Linked DNA regions of Homo sapiens. The protein of the gene in region 1 interacts with the protein of each later gene in a pairwise test. Each region holds a gene or a part of one and is shown in the gene's direction. Other genes may lie near its edges.

Region 1 (7,443 bases):
CCCAACTCCCGCACCACGACCTTCCTCCGTGGGGCGCGGGATTGCGACGGGAGTGGGAGGAGGAAAGACAGAAGCAACCGGAGAGACCCGGAAGGGACAGAGAGCTAGAAGCTGGCCTGCCGAGGGCTCGAAATCTGAGTCTTCCCTTATGCAGCGAAACCTGCACCCGTGGAAACCGCACTTCGCCTGAAGACAGGGAGCCCGAGGCTCGAAGCCCAGGCTTTCGCGGTCCTACTGTCCCACTGCACCCTGCAGCCCCAGCTCTCGAGCAAGCATGCGTCCCAAGGCGGGACCGCAAGTTGTCGGCCCCAATTGCCCGCAGCCCCCCGCGTAAGAGGAGAGCCAGGCTCCGGCAGCGGCAGACGCGGGGCTTCGCTGCAGCTACGGCTTTACCGGCGCCCCTCCCCTCGGGCAGCCCGGACAGATTTTTATTACCTGCAGTCATAGGCCAAAAGTGTTTACCACTTCACCTCAGAGGACCCGCTGCTGCTCAAGAAACAAATATTTAGTCTGGAAACCTAACCAAAAAATTAGGCCTCTTCAAAGTCATTACTCCTTTAGAACAAAAAGGGCTTTTCAGTCCATGCGAAGGAAGTCCTTCCTGTACTCCCCACCCCATCTTAAAAATTTCTGCCAAAGCATGCGGGCTTGGGTTGGATTCTTGACTTGTTTTATCTAGTGGGTTCTGTACCTTGGTAGTGGGTAAGAGGCCTTGACGGTCACAGAGGCTGCATCAAACCACCCGGAACATTTGACAGGCCTGTTCCCAGCCTTGGCCTTCACATTCTGGGAGACGTGCAAGTTTGGGTATTTCATCAAAAAGCATCAACAGGGAGGGGCGCAGTGGCTCACGCCTATAATCCCAGCACTTTGGAAGGTCGAGACAGGCGGATCACCTGAGGTAGGAGTTCGAGACCAGCCCGGCCAACTTGGTGAAATCCTGTCTCTACTAAAACTACAAAAATTAGCCGGGCGTGGTGGCGTATGCCTGTAATCCCAGCTGCTCAGGAGGCTGAGGCAGGAAAATCGCTTGAACCCGGGAGGCGGAGGTTGCGGTGAGCTGAGATCTTGCCATTGCACTCCAGCCTGGGCAACGGTGTGAGACTCTGTCTCAAAAACAAACAGACAAACAAACAAACAAAACAAACAAAAACCACCACCAACAACAACTACAACAAAATACACACACAAATCAACAGAACTGCACTCTTCTTACTACCCTCTATATAGGTTCAATGTTTTTGAGGTAGGCCTGTATTTACATAAGGCATATGCAAAATGAGAGAATTAACCTAAAAAATGCTGCCCAAGGCTTTAAACAACACTTTTGACTTTATCATCGGAGATAAGTTTAAATCACAAGTCCCTGAACCCCTCTGGCTCATAATCTCTGGAAAAGGGATAATAGTTTAAATCTCACAGAGTTACTGTGAACCTTAGCTGAGATAACATGTAAAAAGCACTTGGAATTGCAAAGTAAGAGTTTTGTATAAGTTAGCCAATATTACTACTAGTGGGCGTGGAATCTCTAAATAAATTAAGGGACATTAAATATTGGAATGGAATGGTCACTGTACCTCATGAAACATTATTGCCTGCTACACCCAGTTTAGTGGAAACATTATAGGTGTCTTTTACTGTGAGTAGTTTCGCTGACATGTCTCTGACATGTTTTTTGTAATAAACGTGCTAGAAATGCACTATCAGTGTCATTTAAAAGGTGCAAAAATAGTTTTCAAAGCCACTAATGAATGAAGGTGCTGCTGAGAAATAGTGTTTTCCCTTTCGACAGACTGAGGTCCGGTTTGGCGCAGCCTTTGGGACCAGAGGCGTCGGGTCCCAGAGGAAGGGAAGATGTGGGAGAGCCTCGGGCTGAGTGATAGAGGAAGGGGTCGTCAGTCCTCACCTTAGTCCCCAGTGACTGCGTCTCCGACTTGAAAACCAACTCACAGCAGCCGAAACCGCGAGGAAAACAGATGGGGGCGCCAAACGACAGCAATAAAGGCATCCACGGATTTCCACCCAAGCAGTGCCTCGGTTCACCCACACTCCCGCCAGGGTCTCGCACCACTTCCCACCCCCACCACCCCAGCACGACCCGAGCCTGAACCAAGGTGTCCCATTCAGTCCCTGGAGCAAGCGAGGACTGGGTAGGGGGACCCTTCCTGGGTCACAGGAGCAGCGACTGCCAGGCATGGCAGAATTGGGCATCCGGGCTGCGGAGCAGGGAGGGAGCAGGTGGGGGCGTTGGCAGGGCTGGACTCCCACCGCGCTGATGGCCCCAAAGCCGGCGCAATGAGAACTCAGGGAGCTCGGAGCTGGGTGGCCAATGGGGCAGGGGCAGAGGTGGACGCTGGGTCAAGTCCCAGTCCCGGTGCGCTGGATGCCCACTCTGCGTTCCCCGCCGGTTCCCCGTTCCCCCAGGCACCGCCTGCCTATCGAGCTTTCCGTTTATTACCTTAAAGATGTGGAATTGATTTTCTAAGCAAAGCTCGCGTTGTTGAAATAAGTTGGCGCCGAGGGGAACAGAAGATAAACTTTTGGCATTGACTATATGTGTGTATATATGTATATAAATATACTTCACACCTCGCTTCCCCTTACATTCCTGATGCGCCCCCAACGGGTCTAAGGTTAAAAGGAAAGCGCCAAGAGCTATAGGCGAATAGATCTCGAGCTTGCCCCCTAACACACCCCAATGTTCTGGGTGTGTCGGCAGAAAGAAGAGGGGGCCCTGGTTGGGGTTCGGATTGAGGCTAAATGTGGGGATGCAGGACCCGCGCCCAGCGCCCAGATTGTCAGGGTCTCTCAGCCGCTTCAGAAGCTCACGGGCGGACCTCCGCGTCCCATCCCCGTCCTCCCTCGCCTCCGCCTGTGTCCGCGAATCTCTCTCCGGCTGGGCCGTTGGCGGGTGGGCACAGTGCTTGGAGGGTCAGGGAAGGGTGGGCGCAACCGCGGGAGATGAGGAGCGGCCTGGAGTGAAGATTGATCTTCGTTAAAATGGTTGCCACCGGCGTCATTATGACTATCAAAGTTGTCGCCAAGAGGCTCAGCCTCCAAGCCCAGGCCGCAGAGAGCTGCTGTAAGGCTGTTCGGCGACTCTCTGCGCCCGGACCCAACGCTGGGAATACCTGTGGCCGCAGGTAAGGGGCTGGGGTTGATGAGGGGAGGAAAGAGAGAAGGAAGAAAAGCAAAGGGGAAGGGAGGGCAGCGGGGAGGTAGGGGAAGAAGGCTGTCTCCTCTTTCCTCTTTTGACCTCGAAATCCAGCGCCTTTGCCGCAAATAATTCTATTTGAGGAGGGAGGGGAAAATCTGGCAACGTGAGCGTGGATTCGGAGCGCCCGTATGGCGCTGTAAATCTCCACTGTGTTTAAAGTTAGCTGTCGAATTCTGCTATCAAATCGTCCAGCCTAGTTCGTTTCCCCTCAGGAAAATGCGTAGGCGAGAAGGCTTTCTATCAGCAGGATTATAAAAGTAAAAAACCGGGGACTTCGAGTTCAGATCTCACTCTGCAGACGGTGTTAGAAAATCAGAGAGGACCTAATGATTTCCGTTTGGAGGCGCGGGCCCAATGCACCTCCGCGGCCACGTAGCAAGAAAGCGCTTTCAAAACTCTAGGATATTTCTATTTCTCTCTCTCTCTCTCTCTCTCTTTCTCTCACTCCGTCTCCCTCTCCCTTTCTCCCTCTCTCCCTCTCTCCCTCTCTTCCGCTCTCTCTCTCTCCCGGGGTGGGAGGAGAGCATTTAGGCTGAGGTGAAGAAATAGGGAGGGAAAGAACTCCGGCGTCCTATTTGTTAAATAAAATACATATTTGGTTCCGAAATCCGAAAGATAAGTAATCCAGATAGGAGAGGCGCAAGGTCTTCTCCTTACGCAACTCTTCCTGCATCCTCCCCCTTATCTCCCCCCACTTATGCCCCCAGCTTGTAAATGGTAAAAAAAAAAAAAAAAAAAAAAAAAAAAACCAAACCTTCCCGAGGACCTACTCTGGAAAGTCAAACCATTATCTATTATTTAATACGTATCTGTGTCCAAGGAAAAATGAAGAAGGCGCTGCATGATTAGGACCTAAGGGGCAACCTAGCAAACTGAGAGCGTAATGATGCCCCTAAATGAAGGGGGAAATGTGCCGCGGCGCGCTCTATTAATCAGACTGTCAATTTCACCCCCGAGGCCAAACCCCCGGGCGAGCAGAACTGGCTCGGAGCGGGCAAAGGACCGGAGCCTTCCTCCTCACTTGTCTCTTCTCGCCTCCTACCTGGATCTATTTGTCTGCTCTGAAGCTGCCTTCATTACCCACTGACAGGAGGGTGTATTTATTTGCTTATAAACCTGTTACAATAAATGATTATTCGAACAGCGTCATTCGTACCTTAATGACGAGCGGGCGCTACTTTTTGATGAATGACATCTCGGGATCGGAAGGATGTATGGGTCATTTTGACCAGTCATTCCCTCGCTCTGGCATCCCACAATTTTTCCGCCTCCCTCCGAAAGCGATAATAATATTTAGAGGCGTTCGCTGGGGCTGAATGAGAATTAGCCCTAGGCGCAGCCTATCATTAGGACGGGACAGCAGGGCCACTGTGACATTTTTAAGAAAGCTGAGATGATGGAAAGAATAAGAAAAGAGATGATTCTGATGGAGAGAGGGCTGCACAGCCCTACGGCGGGCAAGAGATTCTCCAATTTGTCCAACTCGGCTGGCAATGCTGTGCTCGAGGCCCTGGAAAATTCGCAGCACCCGGCTCGCCTAAGCCCGCGCCTGCCGTCTGCCCCCCTGCACAGCGCTCTGGGAGAACTCCCCGCCAAGGGCAAATTCGAAATAGACACTTTGTTCAACCTGCAGCACACGGGCAGCGAAAGCACCGTCTCCTCCGAAATCTCCTCCGCCGCCGAGAGCCGCAAGAAGCCGGGCCATTATTCAGAGGCGGCCGCTGAGGCCGACATGAGCAGCGACGTGGAGGTGGGCTGCTCCGCGCTTCGCTCCCCCGGGGGCCTCGGCGCCGCTCAGCTTAAGGAAAACAATGGCAAAGGTAACCGCGCCGGCCGCACCGCGCTCTCCAGTCCCATCCTCTTTGCTCCTCCGCGGCCCCCGCCAGCCTTTCCCGGTGCCTTTTCCCCTCTCAGACCCTCCACAGGCAAGCTACACCGAGCTAGCACGGGCGGGGGCGGGACGCATGTCTGGGACCGTGCCTTCCAGTTCTGCTCCTTGAGCTTTCCCGCCAGGCTCAGGCCTGCGGAGCCTGGAACACCAGGCCCACCCGCCCTCGCTCCTGAGTCCGAGAAAATGTTTCTGCGCTCGTGTCTAAGAGCCCGAGCGAGCCGGTAGACCCCTAGTCAGCAGCCGAGTTGCTTTTGGGAAAGGTACCCTGGGCAACTACTCTGAACTCCCCTGCCCCTGTGCCCTCAGGGCTGGAGGGGGCATTCTTCTGGGTAAGTCGGAGGAAGCCTCGCCGGCGTCTCTGTTTAGGTCAGCGGGAGAAAGAGTTGAAAAGTATATTTCACCCCCTATTGGCTTGGGTTTGAGCTACTGCTGTGTTGGAACTCTTAAAATATTTGAAACCCCGAAGACTCAGATAAAGGTTAGAGGCCGTATAAAAAGCTGCCCTGCGGTCTCCAGACCATGGGAAACCCAGAGCTTCCCAAACTGCGCCCAGAGGTAGGCATTTTCCCTCGGCCACTTTTCCTCCTTGGTTGAAAATTTCTAATTATTAAAAAAGAAATCTCCTAATTCCGTTTCTATTATTTGCTTATGAAGGGCTCCCCAAACTTTATTGATTCCATTAACGGCAGCAATTTGTAAGCATGACAGACCCCATCAATTCCGGCAGCGACTCTCCTTCCTGACGGGGCTTCCCCGATCCGCGCGCAGCGCCAGCGCCGGGCTGTTGGTCCTACAGCCACTCATGCGCTGTTGGTCGTTTGTTTGCCAGGGTACGCAGAGAGCGGCTCGGCTGCCGGCACCACGACGTCGGCGTCGGGCTCAGGCCTCGGAAGCCTGCATGGAGGCAGCGGAGGCAGCGGCGGGAGCGCGGCGCTGGGTGGCTCCGGCTCTGGCGCGGATCAAGTGCGGCGCTACCGTACGGCGTTCACCCGCGAGCAGATCGCGCGCCTGGAGAAGGAGTTCTACCGGGAGAACTATGTGTCGCGGCCCCGCCGGTGCGAGCTGGCCGCGGCACTCAACCTGCCCGAAACCACCATCAAGGTATCAATTCCAGTGCATGCCTGCTCTGGCCTCCCCGGGGGCATCTGGGTTGATTGTTTCTTTTTCCCCTTTCCCCTTTCTGGGTGGCTAGATTTAGCTAAGGGTCTGGAAATCCGCGGGGGGTAGTCACCAAAGGAATTGGCTTATTTATTTCCCGGCCACCGAATCCGAACGGTTGTCCGGCCTGACGGATCTAAGAAGGCCCCCGAATGGTGACTCCAATGCTGAAAGCACTCGCCCCTGCTCCATTGTGCCCAACGCCTGGCCAGATGCCCCCTCGCCCATACCCACGGCCCCACTTTCCCCTAGGCGGCAAGCCCAGTTGGTCTTTGTTCCTCAAGCAGGAACCAGAGGTGAAACTTTTCATTTGCTCTTGAGCTTGGAGATTTATTTTCCGCATAAATCGTTACACGGAGAAAAGGATACTGTATCTTTAAAATCGATTGGTTTGAGACAGTAGTTTCCTGAACATTTTCCTCTTGGGCAACGAAAAAAGGGCAACCTCCTGCGGGGAAAAATGCAACGAAATTGTCCTTATTTATATATAACTTTAGGTTATTAATTTTATTATACGTCTGGGAGAGATAGCCGGGAGGTTAGGCGATTTGGTGAGCCCTTCATGGAGCGTTCGACACTGCAGAAAAAAGAAAAAATCTCCACGGGGTAGGGGAGGAGTGTGGAAGTCTCCCTCTGGTTTGATCGGGCTTTCTTTAATTTAGAGTTGTGACGAATGATGTCTTTATTAGATAGTGTTGGGAGGGGTGGAAACGTCCCCTTCCCCGTTTATGGAGACATTGCTCTACCCACTCATTTAAGGCAAACGATTCCAACAAAATCATCCCTTCAATATCAAAATCGGACCCGTGCCCCTAGGGGCAGGTCCTTGCAGTTCGGAGGGCTCAAGACTTCGCGCGGCGACCTCTCAGAAAAGCTGAGCGGCAGCCTCTCTTCAAAGGCTGCCCAGAATCCCCGTACAAATCCTGGGATTGAGAGACGGGTGCTCAGCGAGACCGGCACTGGTGGGTGGCGGGAGGGAGAGGAAAGGTTGGATTGGGACAAAAAAGTGCAGCAAGAAGTAAGGGAATAAAAGCCTGAGGAGCAGCAGCAGCCGGACGCGGGGGAGAGGACCCTCTTCGTTGAGGACGGTGTGCCCACGGCGGTCCACACACTGCCGTCCACACTTTCCCAGCTGGGAGACCACAGGGTACTCGGGGTTGGGCTTGGTCGGAGAGAA
Region 2 (7,025 bases), on another chromosome or scaffold:
AAGAGCTAGATGTATAAGAAAGCACTTATCGATGATAAAACTCTGTACAAAGTTAGATGGGATGTTGAGGATGATAACTGAATTGTTCTTTCAAAATTTAAGGGGTTTCTATTAGGATTTCAGTACTGGAAAATATTACCAGAGAAAAGAGTTCCTGGGCGTGAAATCTGAGTTAGCGTAGAGTCAGACTGCAGTCTCCATGCAGGTTGGTTCTCTCTTCAGCCTCTCTTCTGGCCTCTGCACCAAGCAGCCCTTCCTCTGGTTGCCCGCCTGTACAATGCCCGTAAATTAAATTTTACGCTGGTTATTCTTTAAATTCCACTAACCCATATCCATTCTCTGCCCTACTCTATGCCCTGGGAGCCTGACCTCTATGGACTACACAACCTCTATGGACTCCATTGCTCTCTGGCCTTGGTTGGGTTTGGAGAGTGGAAGGCATAGTAGGGGAGTGGAGAGTAGGAGGAGAAAAAGGCTGGGGTACTGATTCTCTCTGCTGCCTCTCTGCCCCACCCCTGATCTGTCAGGAACAGTGTTCCTCTGTGGCCACAGCTCCTGTCAGGCAGCCTTCTTCCATAGTGCTAGCTCTTGCTGGGCCCTGGTAACCTTGTTTCCTCCCCTTGCTGTTTCAGGTGTAGGGATGGTAATAGTTTCTTGCTGTTGGTAGTCCCTGGTGTTTCACTAGGCTTTGTTGGTTTTACTCGTAGGGCTTTTCCCTAGCCCTTGTTGGTTTCTTAACCCTTCTACATGTCAAGTAATAATTCCACTAAACTATCTTCAGGCAATCTTATTGAGGGTGCCATCTAGTTCCACCTGGGCTCCTGACTAATACAATTCTTTGTGTTTCCTCTCTATACTCTACATCCTCCAACAAATTAAGCAGAGGCACATTCTGTCCTGAGCTGGGCCACACAGTTAAGAATTAGTAGGCCAGGTGTGGTGGCTCACGCCTGTAATCCCAGCACTTTGGGAGGCTGAGGCAGGCAGATCATGAGGTCAGGAGTTCGAGACCAGCCTGACCAATATGGTGAAACCCCGTCTCTATGAAAAATACAAAAATTAGCTGGGCGCAGTGGCTCACGCCTGTAATCCCAGCACTCTGGGAGGCCGAGATGGGCGGATCACCAGAGGTCAGGAGTTCTAGATCAGCCTGACTAACATGGTGAAACCCCGTCTAAATATACAAAATTAGCTGGGTGTGGTGGCATGTGCCTGTAATTCCAGCTACTTGGGAGGCTGAGGCAGGAGAATTGCTTGAACCTGGGAGGCAGAGGTTGCAGTGAGCCAGGATTGCGCCACTGCACTCCAGCCTGGGCGACAGAGTGAGACTCAGTCTCCAAAAAAAAAAATATGAAAATTAGCCAGGTGTGGTGGTGTGTGCCTGTCATGCCAGCCGCTCGGAAGGCTGAGGCAAAAGAATCACTTGAACCCGGGAGGCGAGGTTGCAGTGAGCCAAGATCGCACCACTGCACTCCAGCCTGGGCGACAGAGGGAGACTCTGTCTTTAAAAAAAAAAAAAATTAGCACAAGCTCAGATTCCTTAGCCTAGCTTTTTAAACACACACACACACACACACACACACACACACACACACAGAGCTTTATTGATATATACCATAAAATTCACCCATTTTACGTGTACAATTAAATTATTTTTAGCAAATTTACAGAGTAGCGCAACCATTAGCACAATCAAGTTTCAGAACATTTCCATTACCCCAAAGAGATCCCTTGTATCCATGCGCAGTCATTTCCCATTCCTGTTCCAGCCCCAGCAACCACTTCCTGTTTCTACAAATTTGCCTTCTCAGGACAGTTCATACAGACAGCATCATGTGTGGTCCTTTGCATCTGACCTCTTTCACCTAGGGTGATTATTTTGAGATTCATCCATGTTGTTGCATGTATCAACAGTTCATTCCTCTTATTGCTGATTAGCATTCCATTGCCTGGATATACTACAATTTGTCTATCCATTTATCAGTTGATGGACATTTTGGTTGTTTCTATGTTTTGTGTATTTTAAATAATGCTGATATAAACATTTACGTACAAGTCTTTGTGGGTAGGTACTTAGAAGAGGAATTTCTGGGTCATGTAGTAACTCTATGTTTAACTTTTTAAGGAACTACCAAACTGTTTCCACAGAGGCTGCACCCTTTTACATTCCCATTGGCAATGTGTGAGGGTTTCATTTTCTCCATATCCTTCCCAACACTTTTTATTTTCTGTATTTGATTCTAGCCATCCTAGATGCAGTGATATTTCATTATAGCTTTGTTTTGCATTTACCTAATTACTATGTTAGTATCTATACATGTGCTTATTATTCATCTGAATATCTTTTTGGAGAAATGTCAATTCAGATCTTTTGCCCATTTTTAAATTGGAATGTTGTAACAGTTTTTTGTATGTATTCTAGATACAAGTCCTTTATCAGATATATGATTTGCAAAAGGAACTCAAGCACTCTCCTTCTTCCTTCTGCTATAGATTTATTTTGCCAGTTGTGCATTTGGAACAGAGGACATTAGGACTTCAGGAGGCTACTTCCACCTGGCTAATATATTCTATGACCTTAAAAAGTTGGACCTGGCAGACACATTGTACACCAAGGTGAGCTGGGGAATGTGGGAGCTGAGCCTTCACTCTTAGGCTTGGTGTCTTACAACTTGTATTAGACTATTCATGAAAAACATACCATTCATGAGAAAGAGAGGCACAGAGAGATGAAGTGGCTTGCCCAAGACTATATAGCCTGATACATGATATACTCCATTTTCTTTCTTCCAGTGTCTCCACTACCAAAATAGACTAACCCTTAACATCCGTAGGGTGATTAACGAATAATGAAGGACAGGTCAGTAAGAGCCAAACCCCTTCAGATAGACTGTTGTATGCTGTGTCATACCCATAGCAGCAAGCTAATGTGGGCTTATTGAAGTGTGCGATAGAGAAGGAGATTTCCAAGGGAAGTCTGTTGCTACAAGATCCTGTCAAGGGATCCAAGAACATGAGAAATTTCCATATTTACATGTAAAATATTTTAAACTGTTTCCAATATATTAAAATGTCAGCTGTATCCATATAGTAACACCTCACTTAGCAGGCAATCATTTGTGTAATAAATGTGTAATACAGGCTTTCTGCTGATTGTTGATTCATGTTTTAGACCTGCTTCTGAGAAAGAGGCATTTTGCTGTAGTTTAAAAGCTTTAGAATCAGATAGACCAGGGTTTAAATTCTGGCTATGCCACTTAACAGCTCTTACCAGAAGTCGTGTGTGATCTTCTCTGAGCCTCGGTTTATTTACATGTAAAATGGGAATAATAAGAATATTACATCAGGATGTTGTGAGGATGTGAAGGTTTCGTGTTGTGTGTGCTATACAAAAGATAACCACTGTTATTAGACCCCACTAGGGCTACCCCAAGATGAGCTGCCACAGGCCCTTTTCAGCCCATCACTTGTCACACTTACCTTGGCCAGGCCTGTTTGGGCTCCTAGGGTTCCCTCTGCCTCCAGGCACAGTAAGAGAGAGAACCTCCAGGTTGTCCAGAAGCCCGGCCAAATGCGCTACTCTCCTCACCTGCCTGGTCCGACGGCTGAGGTCTGGCCTGCTTGTTGTATTACCATCTCTTTTCCCAACAGGTCTCTGAGATCTGGCATGCATATTTGAACAATCACTATCAAGTCCTCTCACAGGCTCACATCCAACAAATGGATTTACTGGGCAAACTATTTGAGAATGACACTGGCTTGGGTAAGTGGCAGTTTTCCCTGAAGGGAGAGCAGTGACTTCATCTCACCCAATACACAGACCTTGTCCCTAAGAGGGAAAGCAGCTGTCCCTGTCATGAAGCACACCATTGCCACCTTCCCCATGTTGCTGATGGAGAAAACTGAGACACGGGGATCAAAGAGATTTTACCAGTGTTGGGAAGAATTCAGATCCCTATCATCACACATAGCCATTCGGGGGTTACTAAGGGACAGATTTAGAGGGAAAAAAAGACCACATCAAAGCCCCCTGTGATTTCTGCAGAGCATCCATTTCTATGTTATCCCTCCAGGGCAGCAGTCCCAATCTCTCCCTGGCACCAGGGACCCGTTTCATGGAAGACAATTTTTCCATGGACTGGGGGGCGTGGGAGGAATGGTTTCAGGAGAATTCAAGTGCATTACATTTATTGTGTACTATGTTTTTATTATTATTAATATATTGTAATATATAATGAAATAATTATACCATGCATCATAATGTAGAATCAGTGGGAGCCCTGAGCTTGTTTTCCTGCAACTAGATGGTCCCATCTGGGAGTGATGGGTGACAGTGACAGATCATCAGGCATTAGATTCTCATAAGGAGTGTACATCCTAGATCCTTTGCATGCACAGTTCACAATAGGGTTCACGCTCCTAAGAGAATCTGATGCTGCTGCTGAACTGACAGGAGGTGGAGCTCAGGTGGTAATGCAAGCAATGGGGAGTGGCTGTAAATACAGATGAAGCTTTACTCGCCCCTACCACCCCTGCTCACCACCTGCTGTGCAGCCCGATTCCTAACAGGCCACAAAACAGTTCTGGTCCATGGCCTGGGGGTTGGGGACTCTTGCTCCAGGACACGTAAGCCAAGGTAGACTCTACACAGAAGGTGCATTGCTGATTTCTTCTGGTGCCTTAACTTCATGCTTTACTGAACAGTGAGCTTCTCAGTGGCAGGGCCCAGTTGGATTAAACTGTATTCCCCGGGCCAGCAAAGGGCTAAGTGTTGAATAGTACCGTACAGCATCATGCCCTCAGAGACAATGAAAAGACACAGAGGATCTAGTTTCTGCTCAAAAGAGACATACAGTGCAGTTGGTGATATAGAACCTATAGGCAATAACAAAAGAACATTCCTGTGAGTACAAATTATGTTACAAGATGAGTCCCAGAATGAAGAGGTGAGGACAGCTGGGTGGTGTTGAAGAAGGAAGACTCTTTGGAGGAGAGGTTTTGAGCTAAAGTTTAAAAAATTAATAACTTTATTGAATTTTCTCTCATTATGTAAATAGTTCATGTTATAGCTGAAAACTTGGAAATCATAGATATCCAAAGATAGCCAACCTTAACATGATGGTGTATATCCTTTTCGTCTTTTTCTCTAAGCTTAGTACTTGTATAAGTGCTTTTAAATGCATGTAGTGACTTCTCAGTAAATGATGACTAAAGTAGGACCAAAAACTACTGGGGAAAATAGTAAACAGACTCTCAGAGGGAAGCATGAAGGTTGTTGCTTACGCATCTATGGCCTAGACGAGAAGAGTTAAGCTGCTGCAGCTGCAAGAAGTCCCTTCCCCCAGTTCTCTCCTCTCAGCTGTAGAGTGGAATCTGAGTTGGACCCAAGGAATCTGCCTGTGGCAGATTATCTGTGTTTGTAAGCCCAAGAGATCTAGAGTTCAGGACTCCGAAAGAGAGAAACCTTAGCAACTTTGGGACCTGTGGGAGTGAGCCTATTTTTAGGCTACTCTGATAATGGCATGCTAAGCAAAGCTGGAAAGCGGTCTGAAACTCCTGCTTCGGAGCTTCCTGCTTTGCACCTGGAGGGAGTCCTCTAGGTAAAAAACTTGCTGTAATTGGTGCTATTTCCACCAGTGCCCTTGGGAAGGCTTCAGCAGACCAGGCGCTTTAACAGCTGAGTGCTTTTGATGAGGGCAGACTCAGTTGCCAAGAGCCTGTTTTTTCTTTCTTCCCCTTCCAATGCAGATGAAGCCCAAGAAGCAGAAGCCATTCGCATCCTGACTTCAATCTTGAACATTCGAGAATCTACATCTGACAAAGCCCCCCAAAAAACCATCTTTGTTCTGAAGATCCTGGTCATGTTTTACTACCTGATGATGAATTCTTCAAAGGCAAGTTTCCCTAAAAAAGCAACACGTCTAAAATGAAGGTAGAAATTCAACTAGTTGAACTCAAAATTTGTGTTTTGCCCAATTCCAATAGCTTTTGCCCTCAGAGCAAGCCCTCACTCCAAAGAGGTTCAGATGCTCACGATGTTTCTCCTGTGTTGAGTCTAGCCTGCATAATGGAAATTGGATTGTCTTCTTCCCCCGAGGGTTCCCAGTCTTGCATAGATAAAGAGAGTCTGAGGCAGTGCTGGGAAGCCTGCAGGGCAGGAAGGCTCTGGGGAGCCTTGGATGGATGAAGTAGCCGCTCTAACTCCACTCAGTTACTGAGTTCCCTGTTGCTGCGGGGATTCAGGCAGAAATGCATTGCCATGAAATGATTCAAAAAGTAACTTTTTGAGTACTTTTACCTACCAGTTATTGGCCTAAACCCTTTACATAATTATCATACTTAATGCTTACACCAACATTAATGAGGTAGCTATTTTATTATCTCTACTTTACAAACAAGGAAACTGAGGCACCGAGAGGGTCAATTCTTTGCCCAATGTCTTACAGACAGCAAGTAGCATATCTCAGGTTTATTGACTTATTGGTTGATTCTCTCATTCATTCAAACATTTATTGAAAATCTACCATTTGTAAAGCACTAATCTAGGGACTGGGGATACAGTGGTGATCCATACGTTTCCTATCTCTATGGCACTGGTGTTTTTTGGAGGAGTGGAAATAAACATATGTATGTGTAATATAATTTCAGATAGTAGAAACTGTTATAAAGAAAACTAGCCAGGCACAGTGTCTCATGACTGTATTCCCAGTACTTTGGGAGGCTGAGGAGGGATGATTGCTTATGTCCCGGAGTTCAAGACCAGCCTGGGCAACATAATGAGACCCACTCTCTACTAAAAATAAAAATAAAAAGATCAGCCGGGCTAGAGGTGTGCACATGTAGTCCCAGCCACTCGGGAGGCTGAGATAAGAGGATTACTTGAGCCCAGGAGATTGAGGCTGCAGTGAGCCGTGCTTGTGCCTCTGCACTCTAGCCTGGGTGACAGAGCAAGATCCTGTCTCAAAAAAAAAAAAAAGAAAAAGAAAAAGAAAAGAAGAAGAAGAAGAAGAAAAAGCAGTTGGCAG
Region 3 (7,025 bases), on another chromosome or scaffold:
GAGGGGACCTGATTTAGATTGGCTTTCACTGTTCTTCTTGGTTCTACTTTTTTTTTTTTTTTTTTGGTCCAGATTTACGATGACTATTTCATTCACTACTTTGCCCCCAGAGGCCTTCCACCTATGGAGAAGAATGTGGTTTTTGTTATTGACGTAAGCAGCTCCATGTTTGGTACCAAGATGGAACAGGTAACAAGGATCCTGGAAACCTTTCTTAGTCCTAGTATCAGAAGACCCAGAAAGCAGAGAGCGTGGTAACAATGGGGCCCTGGGAGAAGAGATTCCACCATCCCATGACCCTTGAGTCTTACAGGCTTGGGCCTACCCTAGGGTCCTGGTATCTTACCTAACAGGAGCCTGTGGACCTGGAGCCACAGAGTCCTAAGAACATTGACACATTGGTCACTGTGAAACCATTGAGACCCTCAACCACGAAAGCCCAGGGTCATATAGGACCCTCAAGCTAGAGCACCCTGGGATCCTAGAATCCAAAAGCAAGAAAACCTTAGGTGAGAAAGACTCTGAGTCTTCCTGAGGCCACAAGGTTTTGGGTCTTTGTAATTTTTTTTTTTTTTACTTTAAAGGCCTAATAGTATAGAGTACTAGCATTATAGAATTAGAAACCATAGAGTCAGGAGTCATATCGATTTTAATCTTGTTGCACTTCTACCACTGTGCCCATGGGTCAGAGTTCTGAGGCCGTAGACCAAGCAGGCTTTGACTTTAGTCCCTGAATCCATAAAGTTCTGCAGGCAGCATTTCATACCATAATACCCTGGAGCTTTTTGTACCGGTGTCTTGCAGTTGTATAGCTTTGCTCCTTAATCTTTCAATCACAGAGCCTTTGGGACCTAAGGCTGAGTTTGTTTTACCAGAGTTGAGCAACCTGGGGAAAAATGGGTAATACCCCAAGCCAGCTCCCCAGCCCCAGTGTAGGGGGAGGGATCTCCCCAAATCCAGCCCTTTCTAGCCTTCTTGTCTCACTGAGGAGGGGTAAAAATCTCAGAAGTCCTTGTGAAGTTTCTATCTCAGGGACACCAATTCACTAAAAGATTGAGACCTCCTCATAAGAGTATAGAATGCTTCCTCTCACTCCACACATTATCACCACATCAACTGGGCTCCTCGGCAATAACGGAAAGTTACAGCTGATAGAACTACAAGCCCAAACCCTATTGAAGAAAATGTTCCTAGGGAAAACCAAAGACAACAGAAGCAACAAAAATACAGACACTAGAAGGGGAGCTGAGGTAGGTGGATCACTTGAGCCCAGGAGTTTGAGACCAGCCTGGGCAACATGGCAAAACCCTGTCTCTACTAAAAATACAAAAATTAGCCAGGTGTGGTGGTGCGCACCTGTAGTCCCAGCTACTCAGGAGGCTGCATTTGGAAAATGGCTTGAGCCCAGCGAGTGGAGCTTGCAGTGAACCAAGATCACACCACTGCTCTCAAGCTGGGGCAACACAGCAAGACCCTGTCAAAAAAATAGTAGTTTTAGCCTCTGACAACTAAAACTGCCCCAAACAAGAAACATTACCTAACTCATAGCCAGATAAACTTAAAACCCCACACTAAATGCCTTTTAGTTTATTTCCTTTTACCTGATACATCACGTCTGGCTTTCAACCTAAAATGAGAAGGCATGCTAAAAGGAGAAAAACACTGTCTGAAGAGAGTAAACAAACATCACAGCCAGACTTCAATATGTCAGATATGTCGAAATTATCAAACAATTTTATTTTTGATTGAAATTTTTTTTCCAACTTTTATTTTAGGTTCAGTGGATACATGAGCAGGTTTGTTACATGGGTAAATTTAGTATTGCAGGTTTTTGGTGTACAGATTATTTTGTCACCCAGGTAATAAGCACAGTATGTAATACATCATTTTTCAATCTTCACTCTTCTCCGAACTTCCACCCTCAAGTAGGCCCCAGTGTCTCTTGTCCCCTTCTTTGTGTACATGTGTGTTCAATGTTTAGCTCCCACTGATAAGTGAGAATATGTAGCATTGGTTTTCTGCTCTTGCATTAATTCACTTAGGATGATTGCCTCCAGTTCCCATCCCTGTTCCTGCAAAGGACAGGATTTCATTCTTTTTTATGGCTGCATAGTATTTCATGGTGTATATGTACCACATTTTCTTTATCCAGTCCACTATTGATGAGCATTTAGGTTGATTCCATGTCTTTGCTATTGTGAATTGTGCTGCAATGAACATACATGTGCATGAGTCTTTATGGTAGAACGACTTACATTCCTTTGGGTATATACCCAGTAATGAGTTTGCTGGGTCAAACGGTATTTCTGTTTTTAGATCTTTGAGGAATTGCCACACTGTCTTCCACAATGGTTGTACTAATTTACACTCCCACCAACAGTGTATAAGCGTTCCCTTTTCTCCACAACCTTGCCAGCATCTGTTGTTGTTGTTTTTTTTTAACTATTTAATAATAGCCATTCTGACTGGTGTAAGATGGTATCTCATTGTGGTTTTGATTTCCATTTCTCTAATGATCAGTGATGTTAAGCATTTTTTTCGTATGCTTGTTGTCTACATGTATGTCTTCTTTTCAGAAGTATCTGTTCATGTCCTTTGCCAATTTTTTAATGGGTCAAACCAAGAATTTAAAAACCCATGATTAATATGCTGTGGGCACTAATGGATAGAGTGCACCACATATAAGGACAACACATGGTAATGTAAGCAGAGACATGAAAACCCTAGGAAAATAAAAAGGAAATGCTGGATATCAGAAATACTGCAACAGGAATGAAGAATCCCTTTGATTCACTCATCAGTAGACTGGACATGGTTGGGTAAAGAACCAATGAGCTTGAAGATACGTTCATAGAAATTCCTGAAGCTAAAAAACAAAAATAAAAAGAATTTTAAGAAACACCCTAGAATATCCAAGAATTGTGGAACAATTTTAAAAGTGTTACATATGCATCATGGAAATAATAGAAGGAGAAGAAAGAGAGAAAGGAACAGAAGAAATACTTGAAGTAATAATAGATACAAATTTTCCAAAATAAATTATGCACACCAAACCTCAGGTCTAAGAAGCTTAGGAGAACACAAAGCAGGATAAATACTAAACAATCTACACCTAGGCATATCATATTCAGACAGCAGAAAAATCTTTTAAAAAGCCAGAGGAAAATGTACCTTACCTATAGAGGAGCAAGGATATAAACTATATCAGACTTTTCTTCAGAAACCATGGGAGCAAGAAGAAAGTGGAGTGAAATATTACAAGTGTTAAAGGAAAAAACCCACCAGCCTAGAATTCTGTATACATCAAAATTATTCTTCCAAAGTGAAAAAAAAATAAAGACTTTCTCAAACAAACAAAAATTTTGGGAATTGTCACCAATAAACCTGCTTTGCAAGAAATGTTAAAAGAAGTTCTACATAGAGGAAGAAAATGGTATATCTCAGATACTTGGATCTACATAAAGAAAGGAAAAGTGTTGGAGAAGGAATAAATGAAGGTAAAATAAAATAGTTTTCTTATTAACTGACCTAACAGATAATATTTTTTCAAAATAACAATGTATTTAGTGAATGTAGCTTAGGAATAAGTGAAATTAATGAGAGTAATATTGTATAGGATGGGAGGGAATAATTGGGAATACTCTGTTACAAGGTACTTGCACTATGCATAAAGCTGTATAGTGTTATTTGAAAGTGGATTTGGATTGGTTGTAAATGTATACTGCAAACTCTAAGGGAACTGCTAAAATTTTTTAAGTCTAATGCGTATGCTAAGAGATAAGATAAAACGGGATCATGTAAAATGCCCAGTTAAAACTAGAGAAGCCAAAAAATAAGTGGAAGACATAAGAGTAAAGAATTTTAAGGGGAGGAGCCAAGATGGCCGAATAGGAACAGCTCCGGTCTACAGCTCCCAGCGTGAGCGACGCATAAGACGGGTGATTTCTGCATTTCCATCTGAGGTACCGGGTTCATCTCACTAGGGAGTGCCAGACAGTGGGCGCAGGCCAGTGGGTGCGCGCACCATGCGCGAGCCGAAGCAGGGCGAGGCATTGCCTCACCTGGGAAGCGCAAGGGGACAGGGAGTTCCCTTTCCGAGTCAAAGAAAGGGGTGAGGGACGCACCTGAAAAATCGGGTCACTCCCACCCGAATATTGCGCTTTTCAGACCGGCTTAAAAAACGGCGCACCATGAGACTATATCCCACACCTGGCTCGGAGGGTCCTACGCCCACGGAATCTCGCTGATTGCTAGCACAGCAGTCTGAGATCAAACTGCAAGGCGGCAGCAAGGCTGGGGGAGGGGCGCCCGCCATTGCCCAGGCTTGCTTAGGTAAACAAAGCAGCCGGGAAGCTCGAACTGGGTGGAGCCCACCACAGCTCAAGGAGGCCTGCCTGCCTCTGTAGGCTCCACCTCTGGGGGCAGGGCACAGACAAACAAAAAGACAGCAGTAACCTCTGCAGACTTAAATGTCCCTGTCTGACAGCTTTGAAGAGAGCAGTGGTTCTCCCAGCACGCAGCTGGAGATCTGAGAACGGGCAGACTGCCTCCTCAAGTGGGTCCCTGACCCCTGACCCCCGAGCAGCCTAACTGGGAGGCACCCCCCAGCAGGGGCACACTGACACCTCACACGGCAGGGCATTCCAACAGACCTGCAGCTGAGGGTCCTGTCTGTTAGAAGGAAAACTAACAAACAGAAAGGACATCCACACTGAAAACCCATCTGTACATCACCATCATCAAAGACCAAAAGTAGATAAAACCACAAAGATGGGGAAAAAACAGAACAGAAAAACTGGAAATTCTAAAACGCAGAGTGCCTCTCCTCCTCCAAAGGAACGCAGTTCCTCACCAGCAACGGAACAAAGCTGGATGGAGAATGATTTTGACGAGCTGAGAGAAGAAGGCTTCAGACGATCAAATTACTCTGAGCTACGGGAGGACATTCAAACCAAAGGCAAAGAAGTTGAAAACTTTGAAAAAAATTTAGAAGAATGTATAACTAGAATAACCAATACAGAGAAGTGCTTAAAGGAGCTGATGGAGCTGAAAACCAAGGCTCGAGAACTACGTGAAGAATGCAGAAGCCTCAGGAGCCGATGCGATCAACTGGAAGAAAGGGTATCAGCAATGGAAGATGAAATGAATGAAATGAAGCGAGAAGGGAAGTTTAGAGACAAAAGAATAAAAAGAAATGAGCAAAGCCTCCAAGAAATATGGGACTATGTGAAAAGACCAAATCTACGTCTGATTGGTGTACCTGAAAGTGGTGGGGAGAATGGAATCAAGTTGGAAAACACTCTGCAGGATATTATCCAGGAGAACTTCCCCAATCTAGCAAGGCAGGACAACGTTCAGATTCAGGAAATACAGAGAACACCACAAAGATACTCCTCGAGAAGAGCAACTCCAAGACACATAATTGTCAGACTCACCAAAGTTGAAATGAAGGAAAAAATGTTAAGGGCAGCCAGAGAGAAAGGTCGGGTTACCCTCAAAGGGAAGCCCATCAGACTAACAGCGGATCTCTCGGCAGAAACCCTACAAGCCAGAAGAGAGTGGGGGCCAATATTCAACATTCTTAAAGAAAAGAATTTTCAACCCAGAATTTCATATCCAGCCAAACTAAGCTTCATATAAAATACTTTACAGACAAGCAAATGCTGACCGATTTTGTCACCACCAGGCCTGCCCTAAAAGAGCTCCTGAAGGAAGCACTAAACATGGAAAGGAACAACCGGTACCAGCCGCTGCAAAATCATGCCAAAATGTAAAGACCATCGAGACTAGGAAGAAACTGCATCAACTAACGAGCAAAATCACCAGCTAACATCATAATGACAGGATCAAATTCACACATAACAATATTAACTTTAAATGCAAATGGACTAAATTCTCCAATTAAAAGACACAGACTGGCAAGTTGGATAAAGAGTCAAGACCCATCAGTGTGCTGTATTCAGGAAACCCATCTCACGTGCAGAGACACACATAGGCTCAAAATAAAAGGATGGAGGAAGATCTACCAAGCAAATGGAAAACAAAAAAAGGCAGGGGTTGCAATCCTAGTCTCTGATAAAACAGACTTTAAACCAACAAAGATCAAAAGAGACAAAGAAGGCCATTACATAATGGTAAAGGGATCAATTCAACAAGAGGAGCTAACTATCCTAAATATATATGCACCCAATACAGGAGCACCCAGATTCATAAAGCATGTCCTGAGTGACCTACAAAGAGACTTAGACTCCCACACATTAATAATGGGAGATTTTAACACCCCACTGTCAACATTAGACAGATCAATGAGACAGAAAGTCAACAAGGATACCCAGGAATTGAACTCAGCTCTGCACCAAGCGGACCTAATAGACATCTACAGAACTCTCCACCCCAAATCAACAGAATATACATTTTTTTCAGCACCACACCACACCTATTCCAAAATTGACCACATAGTTGGAAGTAAAGCTCTCCTCAGCAAATGTAAAAGAACAGAAATTATAACAAACTATCTATCAGACCACAGTGCAATCAAACTAGAACTCAGGATTAAGAATCTCACTCAAAGCCGCTCAACTACATGGAAACTGAACAACCTGCTCCTGAATGACTACTGGGTGCATAACGAAATGAAGGCAGAAATAAAGATGTTCTTTGAAACCAACGAGAACAAAGACACAACATACCAGAATCTCTGGGACGCATTCAAAGCAGTGTGTAGAGGGAAATTTATAGCACTAAATGCCCACAAGAGAAAGCAGGAAAGATCCAAAATGGACACCCTAACATCACAATTAAAAGAACTAGAAAAGCAAGAGCAAACACATTCAAAAGCTAGCAGAAGGCAAGAAATAACTAAAATCAGAGCAGAACTGAAGGAAATAGAGACACAAAAAAACCCTTCAAAAAATCAATGAATCCAGGAGCTGGTTTTTTGAAAGGATCAACAAAACTGATAGACCGCTAGCAAGACTAATAAAGAAAAAAAGAGAGAAGAATCAAATAGACACAATAAAAAATGA
Region 4 (7,109 bases), on another chromosome or scaffold:
GACCCCCCGGGACCTGTCAGACAGCCTCACCCTGGGAAAATGAAGCCACACGATGTTCCCCACACCTGTGTTCATACCAGTACCCACTTACCTTGCCTTCTCCCTTCTCAGCCCACTCTCAGCTCGAGTAGCATGGGGAGGCCTCCCAGGGATCTCACCACCATCTGCACCCTTGGCCCCCCTCCCTTGATGCCTTAAATTTCATTTCTAGGATACCTGTCCTCACAGCCATACCAATTAGGTGAGGAGGGCCACCTTTAATATGAGCCCATTTTGCAGATGGGAGAACTGTGGCTCTGTGAGTTAAGTCACTCAATTGTGAGTGACAGAGCCAGAATGTGGACCCAGAAATTTTGGCTCCAGAGCCTTTACTCTAGGAACTAATGCCCAGGGGTATTTCTCCTCATCAAGTCCCTCCCCTGCTCTAATCCCTTCCTTGGCTTCCCATCACCCTCACCAGGGATATCAAAAGGGCTGCACATCATATTGCCTTGGGGGCTTGTTAAACGTCCCCCTAGGTGCTTGTCAGTGGAATCAGTGTTGCCAAAGGTGAGGCCAAGAGATATGTATTTTAATGAATCCCTTCCCGTGGGCAGGCCCAATCCCTGACCTGGCTTTGGTGCATGAGGGGATATGGGGACGCCTGGGGAGCTTATGGGTGTGTCAGAGTCCCCTGTTGGGTGGGGATCGGGAAGGAGGAGGAGAGACGAAGCAGGCCAGAAACAACTAGGTAGCATTTTCCTCTCTTCCAAGAGGCTAGGCTGGGCAGTGGTTAAGACAATGAGTGTTAGACGGTCTGGCTGGACTCCTGTGTGACATCCGGCAAGCTGCTTACCCTTGCTGAGCCTTGGCTTCTTGAGTGTAAGAAGAGGAAATAATAACAGCACTGATCTCACTGGGTCTTTGTGGTGACTAGATGTGCTCACATACAGCAGGTGCCTTGTACACGGTATGTGCCGAATAAATACTAGTGTTAGTTTTCTTTCCTCTTCCTTCAAACAAATGCCTTAAAAACACTGGGGATACCCAGCACAGATGAGGCTGTGGAGTAGCAGCATTGACCACGTGCAATGGCATAATGCTCAGGGGAACCATAGCCATAGAGAGTATGGCTAAACATGCGCATGCATGCTGTGCTCCAGCAATTCAGCTCCTTGTTATTTACCCAAAAGAAATGAAGAATAAAAACATAGGCCCAAGCTGGGTGGTGGCTCATGCCTGTATTCCCAGCACTTTGGGAGGCTGAGGTGGGAGGATCACTTGAGGTCACGAGTTCGAGACCAGCCTGGCCAACATAGTGAAACTCCGTCTCTATGAAAAATACAAAAATTAGCCAGGTGTGGTGGCAGGTGCCTGTAATCCCAGCTACTCAGGAGGCTCAGTCAGGACAATTGCTTGAGCCCAGGAGGCAGAGGTTGCAGTGAGCTGAGATCACACCACTGCACTCCAGCCTGGGTGACAGAGCAAGACTCTGTCTCAAAGAAAAAAAAATGTCCACAAACAAGAGTGTTCATAGTAGCTTCATTCATAATAGCCAACACCTGGAAAGCCCAGGCACCACTGGACAGGAAAATGGATAAGCAAACTGTAGGGATTCGCATAATTGAGTAGTACACAGCAAAGAAGACCCAGTCACTGCCTCACACAATGGGAGCAGGGAAGCCACGCACATAAAGCACACAGCGGTTGCACTTAGTGACCCCCAGGAGCATGCTGGACTCAGCACTGAGTTAGCGGTCAGGACAGTGGTCACCACCAGGAGGGCAGTGACTTGGAGGGGACACAAAGAGGGCTTTGAGAGGGCTCCATTTGTAAAAATTCATCACACTGTATACTTGTGATCTGTGCCCCTTTTTGTGTACATGGTTTAGATTTTAGTAAAAAGTTTATCTTTTAAAAAAGTGTGGTGTGGTTGAGTAACCTGGTCCAGGGCCTAAAGTCATCAGAATGAACATTGTAGGGTGAGGGCTTTAGAGATGATTGAGGTAAACAAGGCAAATGCCATCCTTCTTCCCCATCTTAGCAGGCAGAGGTTCAGGGCCCCACGCAGGAGACAGACCCACAGACTCACAGAGCCACAGACACAGTGACAGCTTGGCATGTCACAGATTCTGAGAGAGGAAATCCCAGGGGACTGTGGGAGCTCAGAGGTGATACCTCATGCAGCTTGGGGCTCATGAAGGCTTCCTGGAGGAAGGGATGCCTGAGCTGGTGCCTTCAGAGGAATTGCCAATGAAAGCCAAAGTCTGTAAATCCATACAGTAGCTTCCAGGGCTTCATCACACATTGTTTACCACCTATCTCTCACTCCCCTCCAATCACATGGCCCCCCTGCTGTTCCTGGAACACCACCCTAGGCCTTTGTGTGGGGGTCCCTCTGGTCAGCAGGCTCTTCCCAGACAGCCATCTGACTCCTTCCCTCTTCTCCTTCTGGTCAAAAGTCACCCCTGCTTCAATATGAGGCCTTCCCTGACCACGCTATTGAAAATGGCACCCACTCCCCACACTCCTGAGCCCCTTCCCTGCTTTATTTTTGTTGTTAGCTTCCGACTTACTGTATTTTTTTTGAGATGGAGTCTCACTCTGTCGCCCAGGCTGGAGTGCAGTGAGGCAATTTTGGCTCGTTGCAACCTTCATCTCCCAGGTTCAAGTGATTTTCCTGCCTCAGCTTCCCAAGTAGCTGGGATTACAAGCATGCGCCACCAAGCCTGGCTAATTTGTGTGTGTGTGTGTGTGTATATATATATATATATATATATATATATATATATATAATTTTTTTTTTATTTTTTTTGAGGCAGAGTCCCTCACTGTCACCCAGGCTGGAGTGTGATCTCAGCTCACTGCAAGCTCCGCCTCCTGGGTTCACGCCATTCTCCTCTCTCAGCCTCCCAAATAGCTGGGACTACAGGCTCCTGCCACCACACCCAGCTAATTTTTGTATTTTTAGTAGAGACGGAGTTTCACCATGTTGGTCAGGTTGGTCTTGAACTCCTGACCTTGTGATCTGCCTGCCTCGGCCTCCCAAAGTGCTGGGTTTACAGGCGTGAGCCACCGCGCCCAGCCCCAACTTACTGTATTATGTGCTTATTTGTCCCTTTCAGAGCTGTGCTTTCCAATATGACAGCCAATAGCCATACAAGGCGATTGCCTGAAGTGCGACAAGTCCAAATCTTGGTGTGCTGTAAGCAGATTTTGAAAACTTAGTATGAGAAAAAGAAAGTAAAGTACCCCATTCATAATTTTCTGTTGGTTATATGTTAAATGAGAATATTTTGGATTTGGTGGGGGTAAATAAACTAGACTATTATAATTAATTTCACCTGTTTCTTTTTGCCTTTCAAAAAATGTGGCTACTAGAAAGTTTTAAATTGCATTGCATTTCCACTAGTCGGCTCCTTCAGGGCAGGGGAGATTGTCTCTTTTATTTACAGCGATTTCCCCAGCATCTAGCAGACAGTGGGTGCCTCACAAATGCCTGCAGTGGAGTGAATGAATGGACGCATTTCTCGTCGCTGTCATCTGCACCAGCCTCGGAAAGGGGACAAAGCTCTGGAACTCTGGGGATACTGAGCCTTGGGAGGTGGGGGTGGAGTTGATGCCCCTCCCCCAAGTGTGCCCAGAGTCCCTGTCTCCAGGCCCATAGCCCTCTCCATGTGAGGCCTGGTGCGGGGGGAGGGTGGCGGAAGGTAGAAGACCCAGCAGCTTTAAGTCCCTTCTTTCCCTCCGTAGGCCTTCGCTGGGGAAGGGGTGGGGTAGGCAGGGTAGATTCTGTGCCATTGGAATGGCTCTTGGGGAGCCTTGGAGGGAGCCCAATAGGTGGCTGAATGGGTAGGTGGCAGGGCCCCACACCTCACCCCTGGCTCTGAGGGAGGTGGCTGCCTGTGCAGCCCCCACGCCTTCACTCCCACTCCTGGGCACCGACCCCAGTCCCCTTACTCGCCTCCAAGGAGGAAGGCTTAGCCCAGGCCCTCGGGGAAAACCGCAATTTGCTTCTGACATGACATATTGACGGGATTCTGGCGGCCGTGGCCCCTTTGTGTCCTCAGAGCCGCGTGGGCATATAAGGGCCACCCCTCAGCTCGCGTGGGTGGAGGAACCGACAGGAGGCCGGGAGCCCCCACCTACCCCTTGTGGAGCTGCAGGAGCAAGGGTAAGACAGCCTGAGGCAGCCCTGCTCTTGTCCTGACGCCCAGCCGTTGACCCCACTGCCTTCTGCCCTCCCATATGAATGATGGGCACGGAAAGAACTCACCCTAGGAGGAGACTGGGGGTACCAAGAGGGTGGATGAAGAGAAAAACCATGTTACAGATCTGGGGCCCAGAGAGAGGCAAAGACTTGTATATATTCACAGCCGGAGGGGTGGGCAGGGGATCCCTGTCCATAGGATGATCCTATGGAGAGAGTTCCAGGAGTGCCCATTTTTCTCCTGGCCAGTGACATGCTGCTGAATTTCTATCCCCTGCCCCCTCAGCAGGGACCCCTTCTGACACACAACCACGCACAGAGGCCTTAGACATGGTCCCTGCCTTCATGGAGTTTACAGGGAAGAGAAATAAGGACACAAACAGATGCATAATTGCAAATGGAGATCAGCACCTTAAAGTAAATATTCTGCGTGATGTTTAGTGACAGACGGATTTCTTTAGACAAAGTGAAGGACGGAGGCCTCTCCAGGGAGGCAATGTTTATCCGGAATCTCAATGATAAGGAGTCAGCCATGCAAAGAAGCAGGGAGGAGCCTTCCTAACAAGGAACCGCATGTGCAAAGGCCCTGGGGTGGGAAGGGGCCTGGCATGTTTAAGCTCAAGGAGGTCAAAAAGGCAGGCAGGGATTTTGTGGGTAATGGCAAGAAGCCTGGGTTTCAACCCAGGGCAGCGGGGAGCCACTGAAGGGTTTAAGCAGGAGTGATGGGTGGGCATAGATGGATATGTGATTGGGTGGGCAAATACGGAACTGCTTAAAGAAAAATCCCACTCTGTGAACTTAGCAGATTAGCCATGCCCCCACCTGCCACCCCATTCCCTTTTTCAACAAGATTTGGGGTGGAGGTGGGGGAAGGAGAAAGATAAGACATGTTAAGTCTAAGTGTTGGGTGTCCCCAGTCAGCTAGACCTTCTGAAACAGCCTCATGAGCCAGTGGGAAGCAGCTGCTGGAAACAAAGCTCTCATCCTGCTGTCCTGGAGGGGGAAGCCCCTCTGTCTGCAGCTGTCACTCCAGACACCCGGCCAGGCTCACTGGGCCTCTGAGGATGAAGATTTTTATGTCAGATGGACTCAGGCTTGAATTCTGACTGTCTCTGATTAGTTCTGTGGCCTTGGTCTAGTCCCCTACCCCTTTCGGTCTCAGTTTTCCCAGCTGAGAAATGGAACCCAATGAGGGAGAGGCTTGGAAAGTGCCTTGGAGACTTGAGTGCATTGGCAGCTGCACCGTGCCACCTGCGTGTTAGCTCTGCTTACATTTGGGAGGAGAAGGCTTTCCTGGGAGTGAAGCTCAATTTGGGCTGTGCCAGGTGGGCAGGAAGGGGGAAGGCTGATAATGGGAACAGAGAGGGGAAAGGCTTGAGCAGGAGAAGGGTCTCAGAGTTCCTCCTTCTGCTCCTTATAGGCATGCAGCCAGTCATGCTGGCCCTGTGGTCCCTGCTTCTGCTCTGGGGCCTGGCGACTCCATGCCAGGAGCTGCTAGAGACGGTGGGCACGCTCGCTCGGATTGACAAGGATGAACTCGGCAAAGGTGAGCCCCAGGTGGGCAGTCTGTGAGGGGGCTGCTGCAATGTCAACGACTCAATCTATATGCTTAGAGCATCTGCTTTAAGAGCAGATAAGAGCAGGTTGTGATTCTCAGCTGCTTAGAGAGCACATTCTCCTGGGAGTAGCTGTGCAGGAGTGAAAGTTTCCCTTGCAGGCTTGAATGGGCGATGAATTCCCTCTTACGGGAGGTGGACTGGGTGATATGGGCTGAGGCTGTTTGGGGACTGTGTGTGGCTCAGGGACAGGGACAGAGTGAGGTTGAAGAGGTCGAGGGGAGGGTGCTAGCTGGGCCAGTGTCTCTGCCTCACATCACTAGGGTAAGGGAACTGTACTTGGCATTTGGTACTACAGAGCCCGGTGGCCTGTGGTGACAGTCTCAGGGATAGAGTAGATTGGTCATGAGCAGGAAATGCTTCAGAGAGGCCCCCTGGCCTGCCTCTACTCTACAGGGCCATTCCTCCATCCTGCCCTTCCCACAGTCTGCACAGAGTCAGGCCTGGAGTGCCCAGGAGAGAAGCAGAGACCATCTCCTCCAACTTGATTGAGCCCTGGTGGCTACAAGCTCCCCCTTCTTTGCCCTCCCTTTCAGTGCTGTAGGGCAGTCCAGGATCAGGAGCCAAGTTACACTACTGACCCCAACCCAATTTGCTGTGTGACTTTGGACACGTCTCTGCCCCTCTCTGAGCCTCAGTTTTCCCACTGGTAAAATGAAGGGATTGTTATGAGATTTGCTCATTCATTCTCCAAACACTTACTGGGTACCTCCCACATGCCAGGCAGGGAGGGTGGCCACAGGCCCTGCGGTGGGAGTAAGAGGCTGTTATGGCTTAGTGGGTTCCACCATTTGAGTGTAACCTCTGGGTTAATTCCATTTTTAAAAAGAAGCCTACTCAATCTCAGAGGAAGGAGGCAGCTGCCATGGTCCTGGGGGTGAGGTTGGAGTTTCTAGTACCTTCCTACTTCCACTCTCTCTGCAGCCATCCAGAACTCACTGGTTGGGGAGCCCATTCTGCAGAATGTGCTGGGATCGGTCACAGCTGTGAACCGGGGCCTCTTGGGCTCAGGAGGGCTGCTTGGAGGAGGCGGCTTGCTGGGCCACGGAGGGGTTTTTGGCGTTGTCGAGGAGCTCTCTGGGTGAGTCCCACCTGCTGCATGCCCTACAGGAAGACTTGGCTTTGCTTCCAGGAATTGAGGAGAGATTGTCTCTTTGTAATTTGTCCAATAGGCAGTGAAGGTTGTGTGGGAGGGTTGTGATCCGGGTCTAAAAATGATGACTCTACTGCATGCCTGGCAGGACAAGAACAGCAGAATGCCACTGTGGTTGAGGGTTCCAGCTCTGGGGTCAACACTAGTTACT

Evidence for each region.
Region 2: the proteins of EVX2 (region 1) and ZMYND12 interact in binary tests that used the Homo sapiens proteins (3 or more experiments, as listed by UniProt).
Region 3: the proteins of EVX2 (region 1) and ITIH6 interact in binary tests that used the Homo sapiens proteins (3 or more experiments, as listed by UniProt).
Region 4: the proteins of EVX2 (region 1) and BPIFB3 interact in binary tests that used the Homo sapiens proteins (3 or more experiments, as listed by UniProt).

What each region holds. Positions count from the first base shown.
Region 1 is NC_000002.12:176,080,944-176,088,386, reverse strand, and holds the start of EVX2 (homeobox even-skipped homolog protein 2), read left to right. Parts: upstream 1-4,424; 5' UTR 4,425-4,610; coding exon 4,611-5,037; intron 5,038-5,937; coding exon 5,938-6,209; intron 6,210-7,443.
Region 2 is NC_000001.11:42,432,012-42,439,036, reverse strand, and holds part of ZMYND12 (zinc finger MYND domain-containing protein 12), read left to right. Parts: intron 1-2,493; coding exon 2,494-2,616; intron 2,617-3,651; coding exon 3,652-3,763; intron 3,764-5,748; coding exon 5,749-5,894; intron 5,895-7,025. UniProt on the Homo sapiens protein: Required for sperm flagellum function and male fertility.
Region 3 is NC_000023.11:54,767,245-54,774,269, reverse strand, and holds part of ITIH6 (inter-alpha-trypsin inhibitor heavy chain H6 precursor), read left to right. Parts: intron 1-72; coding exon 73-189; intron 190-7,025.
Region 4 is NC_000020.11:33,049,813-33,056,921, forward strand, and holds the start of BPIFB3 (BPI fold-containing family B member 3 precursor), read left to right. Parts: upstream 1-4,090; 5' UTR 4,091-4,153; intron 4,154-5,518; exon of another isoform or gene 5,519-5,609; 5' UTR 5,610-5,623; coding exon 5,624-5,735; intron 5,736-6,729; coding exon 6,730-6,886; intron 6,887-7,109.